Regions from separate parts of the Homo sapiens genome. Here region 2 is linked to region 1. Evidence: fine-mapped expression QTL. A gene starts in region 1. The other region holds a variant in brackets. All regions are shown on one strand. Distances are between the middles of the regions.

What was found. PIP is the estimated chance that this variant, and not a neighbour inherited with it, causes the effect.
Region 2: its variant is the best candidate, but not a certain one, in a credible set for the expression of MGAT1 in Th1/17 cells (Schmiedel 2018, PIP 0.89).

What each region holds. Positions count from the first base shown.
Region 1 is chr5:180,801,336-180,804,240 of GRCh38, reverse strand. It overlaps MGAT1 (alpha-1,3-mannosyl-glycoprotein 2-beta-N-acetylglucosaminyltransferase), which reads left to right and starts at 1,435. Exons shown (of 2, transcript NM_002406.4): 1 at 1,435-1,561. RefSeq lists enhancers at 1, 456-565, 709-1,415, 1,416-2,123 and silencers at 936-985, 996-1,075, 1,246-1,605.
Region 2 is chr5:180,143,495-180,146,399 of GRCh38, reverse strand. The region is part of intron 1 of RASGEF1C (RasGEF domain family member 1C); the gene reads left to right. Among named protein-coding and RNA genes, the nearest start is that of RASGEF1C, 64 kb to the left of the region's middle. The variant G/C (reference allele first, on the strand shown) is at 1,148.

The DNA of each region.
Region 1 (2,905 bases):
TTACCCTGAGCCTCAAACTAGTTATCTGTAGAATGGGGATGATAACGCTCACTCCGCAGAGCTGCTGAGGCTTGAAGGACAGGCCGAGGGAGGGTTTGGCCCGTGAGGCCCCTCACCATGCCTGGTGACCCCTTAGCAGTTTTGATTTAGGTCCTCGCCTCCACGCAGGGGCCTGCGGGTGCGCGCGGCCCTTTGTTTCTCTAGAACCCTGCACGATTCGTGGTTTCATGTAGAAACAAGTTAGTGAGCAGTCAGTCAGTAACCACAGGCCGCAGAGTTCCGGGCTGCTCCGTGCTCTGGAACACGGGGGAGGGGTTGATGTCAGGGGCGTGGGTCCTGATCACATGGCAGCAGCCCTTCTTGGGGAAGTCAGCTACCCAGCAGCCTGTAGTCCTCGGCTACCCACCCTCACCGCCTGGGGTCCCATGGTGAGACAGCTGGGTGGGCATCAGGCTTCTGCAGAGGGCCAGGCCGGAGGGAGCTGGGCGAGGGAGTGGGGCTGGCTCCTGGCTTGCACCGGCCTCGTGGAATCCAGGCCTCAGACCTGATCGCTGGCGAAACTGGCTCTGTGCGCTGGAGCCCCTGGTCTTCTGCGTCTGTCCTCCTCCCGGCCAGACTTTACTCCTGGCTCAGCGACAGGTATTTGCTATGGAAGAGCTGTCCCTCCCTCCCCTCGGTGGGCCTGGGTCCACCTCCACCTCCTCTTCAGGTCCGCACCTTCCTCCCCTTTAAAACACCAGCCGGGCGCAGACCCGTTCTAGGCTTTTCCATGGTGCTTCCGCCAAAGCTTGTGACCGAGTCCTTCCCGCCTAGGGCTGGTGGGCCTCCCCTGCTGGTAGGTCTCTCTTCGCTTTCTTTACTCAGAACTGAAGCTCTCATTCCCCACCCACCAAGGAAAAACAAAAGGGAAGAAGCCACAGCTGGCCCCGGCTTGCTTTGGCACAGGTGTTTCCCCCCGGCCCCCCGTCGGGCACCCTGGTTCCTGTTCTGTCCCTGCCCCACGCGACCCTGGGGCTCCCACCCGGGCTCCTCAGCCTCCCCTGGGTTGGGGTGGGGGGACTGGCTCCCAGCCCTTGGCCTAGGGTTTGGTGAACGCCTTTCCTGGACTGCGGGCCCACTTCAGGCGCGGCTCCAGGCTGGGCAGCTGCGCTGGAGGGCCGAGGGCAGGGGTGGGGTCGGGCGTCCACCCTCAGGGTTGCGCCAGGGAGCCGGAAAGCCGACTCCCGAAGTTGGGGTCCTGGGAAAACTTGGGTCCTGGGTTGACTGAGAAGCGGCGGGGAAAGGAGGCGGGCCAGGAGGAGGGGGCCTGGCGGACGCCGGCCGGGGGGCGGGGCGCGGCGGGGCTGTCGGTCACGCCCCTCAGTCCGCCCCGCCCCGCCCCGCCTGCCGGGGAAGGGCCACGTTGCCCGCCCGGCCGTCCGGCCCCGGCGCGCCGCAGAAAGGGCTGGCGAGTCGAAAGGCGAGGCGGCCGCGGCAGCGCTTGGGACGCGCCTGGGCACCGGGCTCGCTCCCTGCGCCCCGGAGCAGGCCAAGTTCGGGGCCAGGACGTCGGGAGGACCTGGTGAGTAGGTGTCCGGGGACGGAGGTCAGACCGGGGGAGGCCTCGCGGGCGCCGAGAGGGAGCCCAAGGGACGTCGGGTCGCCCCAAAGCCCCGGTGCCCATGAGTGCTAGCGAGAGGGGGCTTGGCTGGGGAGCGGCCCGGTCCGACCCGGTGCCAGCTGCGCGTTAGTCCCTTCCCGAGCCGAGAGGTTGGAACTCCGCCTTCTGCTTTCGGAATCCCGGGCCTCCAGCTGTTAGAGGAAGGGCGGGCTCCGCGGACTGGGGAGGATGTTGTGAAACTCGGCCCCGGGCGTCCGTGCGTGCGGGGCAGGGAGGGGGTGGGATTGGGGAGTGGCCTTTCCCCCCTAACCTCACTCCAGCATCCTTTCCCCAAGTTAATAGAGGCTGATTCTCCTCAGCAGAAAGGAAATGTTGATTCAGTGTTGAAATATATATATAATAAGTTGGCAAGAAAACTTTTCTTCCTGTTTGCTAACGTGTGTGGAGTAGAGAGCCCCGGGACGTGCAGTGCCCGCGTCTGATAAACTCTGAAGTAGAGGGACTGTGGCTGGCCGGCTCCCTGAAGGCTGAAGCTTCACTTTGGTTAACCCTTGCTGCTGTAGTGGGTCTGCCGTTTTGTTTTAGAACATCACTGGCTGAGATGTTGCCCAGCTTTATTTTCAGTCATTTACGGTATTTTTTCAGGCCGTGTAGCCTTTGCTCTTACGTGCTCACATCATCCAGGATCTGCCTTCCATCAGCAATCACTGCGTCCTGGTCCTTCCCAATTCTGGGGACCATTGAGCTCACCCATTTCCCTGCTTCTGTGTCTCATTCTCACTGTTAGAAGCACTGCGGTATGCCTGACCTCAGTGGCCTGTGTTAACAAGGGAAACTCATTACTGTTCGGGGCAGTAGGGAAATTGTCACTGTCGTCAGTATCCAGGCAGTGGGACCTTGTGATGAACCAAATCAACCCTGTCACCTTATAGATGAGAGAACTAAGGTACAAGTGGGTCAAGTGACTTGTCCAAAGTTGCCTGGCTTGCTGGCTGGATCGCCTGAATCCCAGGCCTCATGCCTTTTGTGGCACTTGTATTTAGCTCTTCTTTTCCAGGATGAATAACCTGCATCCCTTCCCTCCTAGGTCTTATTCTCTCAACTCTTGAATTATTTAGTGTATCTTCTCTGACTACCTTTCTTTTTTTTCCGTCCTGAAATTATGGGCCTGGTACATGATACAGGAGTCCAGCCAAGGTCTAAGAACGAACATGAAAGCAGTTCAGTTAGAGTTCCATTACCTGTGACATGTCTATATTTTCTGGAATTTTTACGTAGTGCTTTTTAACTTTAAGCAAAGCAGAG
Region 2 (2,905 bases), 660 kb after region 1:
TTGAACGGATCACTTGAGCTCAGGAGTTGGAAACCAGCCTGCGCAACATGGTGAAACCGTGTTAAAAGTACCAAAATACAAAATACAAAATGAGCCGGGTGTGGTGGCATGCACCTGTAGTCCCAGCTATTCATGAGGCTGAGACAGGAGAATCACTTGAACCTGGGAGGCAGAGGTTGCAGTGAGTCAAGATTGTGCCACTGCACTCCAGCCTGGGTGACAGAGCCAGACTCCATCTCAAAAAAACATTGGGGGAAAGCTTCATGATATTGGATTGGGCAGTGACTTTTTGGATATGATACCAAAGACACAGGCAACAAAAGACAAAAATAGACGAATTGGACTTCATCAAAATGGAAAACATTTGTGCCTCAAAGGACACTATCAACAAAGTAAAAAGATAACCTACCGAATAGGAGAAGATATTTACAAATCACATAGCTAATAAGGGATTGATATCCAGACTATCTAACAAACTCCTAAAACTCAAAAACAAACAAATCCCAAACAACTCAATTCAAAAATGGGTAAAAGAGGACTCTTGGGGCTAGCTGCCTCATGCCCCTGCAGAGGTCCCAGCAGCAGCCATGCTCGAAGCGTGAGCTCCAGTTCTGTGGGGCTTCTCCTCTGATCTGGGTCTTGAAACGCCACGGCTTCTCTTTTGTTCCTTAAATCTCAGGGGTGGGGTAATTACATCCTGTCACGGAACCAATTCTATGAATTAAATTTTCTTTGCTTGAAAAAAGTGGGGAAAAGTCTTGAACAGGCATTTTTCTAAAGAATATATACAAATGGCAAATGAAAAGATGCTCAAGATCACTGATATTTAGGGAAATGCAAATCCAAACCACAATGAGATACCACTTCCCACCCATTAGGATGGCCATTATCAAAAAAGCAGAAAACAACAAGCATTGTCAAGGATGTGGAGAAATTGGAACCCTTTACATTGCTGTTGGTAATTTTAAATGGTGCAGCGGGCCGGGCACGGTGGCTCACGCCTGTAATCCCAGCACTTTGGGAGGCTGAGGCGGGCAGATCACCTAAGGTCAGGAGTTTAAGACCAGCCTGGCCAACATGGTGAAACCCCATCTCTACTAAAACAAAAATTAGCCGGACACGGTGGTGGCACATGCCTGTAATCCCA[G/C]CTTCTTGAGAGGCTGAGGCAGGAGAATCGCTTGAACCCGGGAGGCAGAGGTTGCAGTGAGCTGAGATTGCACCACGGCACTCCAGCCTGGGTGACAGAGTGAGACCGTCTCAAAATAAAAATTAAAATAAAAATAAATAAAATGGTGCAGCTGCTGTGGAAAACAGTATGGTAAAGGGGGAAACAACCCCCACTGCCCACTGACAGATGAATAGATGAACAAAATATGGTATGTGCATGCAGTGGAACAGTATTCAGCCTTAAAAAGGAAGGAAATTCTGACGCATGTTACAACAGTGGTGCACCTTGACAAAGATGAATGAAATACGCCAGTCACTGAAGGACAAATGTTTTATGATTCCACTTATATAAGGTACCCAGAATGGTAAAAATACATAGAATGTAGAACTGTGGTTACCAGGGGCTGGGGAAGGAGAGGAGGAGAAATTGGGGAGTTAGTGTTTACTGGGTACAGGGTTTCAATTGATGATGAAAAACTTCTGTGGACGGACGGTGGTGATGCTTGTGCAACAGTGTGAATGTACTTAATGCCACTGAACTTTACACGGTAAATTTATGTTAAGTATATTTTTTTAATTTTTATTTTTTTGGTAGAGGCAGGGTCTTGCTCTGTCACCCAGGCTGGAGTGCAGTGGTGCAGTCACAGCTCACTGCAGCCTTGAATTCCTGGGCTCAAGCAATCCTCCCATCTCAGCCTCCCAAGTAGCTCGGACTACAGGTGTGTGACATTACGTCAACCTAATTTTTAAAAACTTTTTCTAGAGATGAGGGTCTCACTGTGTTGCCCAGGCTGGTCTCAAACTCTTGAGAATGTGTAAATGTGTAAAATTCTGCACATATTCAAGCAAGGGCAGAAAGGGCTCTGATTTGGGGCCGTGGACCCACCACAGCCTTTGAGGCTAAAGCAGTGGGACCATTTCCAGCAGCTGTTGGGACGTGGTTTCAGCTGCAGGGCTGGATGGGCAGGTAGAGGGTCGCCCCAGCTGCAGCCAGCACAGAAGCCATGGGGAACCATGGCGGTGCAGTTGGCAAGTCTTTTTGGCACACACAGAGCCTTGGTTAACAGCAGTTGCTGCCTGTGTTGTGGTCTGGCCCTAGCAGGTGGCGAGCTCCCCGTGGCGAGTGCTGGCCTTGGGGGTCCTTTCTCCACAGCAGGCACTGTGCGAGGTACTTCGTGCACCAGTCTCCATAACCTGAAGAGGGGGACTGCTCCCTCTTCTCAGAGCTCACAGGTGTCTTCCTGAGACACGCGCGTGGTCCTCACAGGGGCCTTCGGGAGCCTTCTTTACCTCTGTCCCTTCTGCCACACCTGGCCCAGGGAGAACATCCCTCCAGCCCCCAGGACGCGCTCTGACCAGCCACCTGCTTTTCTTCTGCAAGTTCGATGGATTTCCATTTTGCAGATGTTTAATGCCAGCCACCCATGCTGAGGGATGTGGGGACCCCAGCAGGAACAGGGTCTGTAAACTGACCACCTTGGCACTACAGATGTCATTTCTAACTGTGCTTTAACTCACTGTGTGGCCCCATCAGTGGCTTTTTAAAAAAATAGAATTAATTGCCACCCTTACAATCACAATATGAAACGTAAGTCAGGAGTCCTGGATGTCCTGGATGACTTTTACACCAGGAAGGTCTGAGCACGCCAGCTCCCAGAGCACAGCAGAGCTTGTGGGTTTTCACTGGTACAGCCGGCCCACCTTCTGCCAGCCCCACGCTGAGGAGGAACAGCAGGGC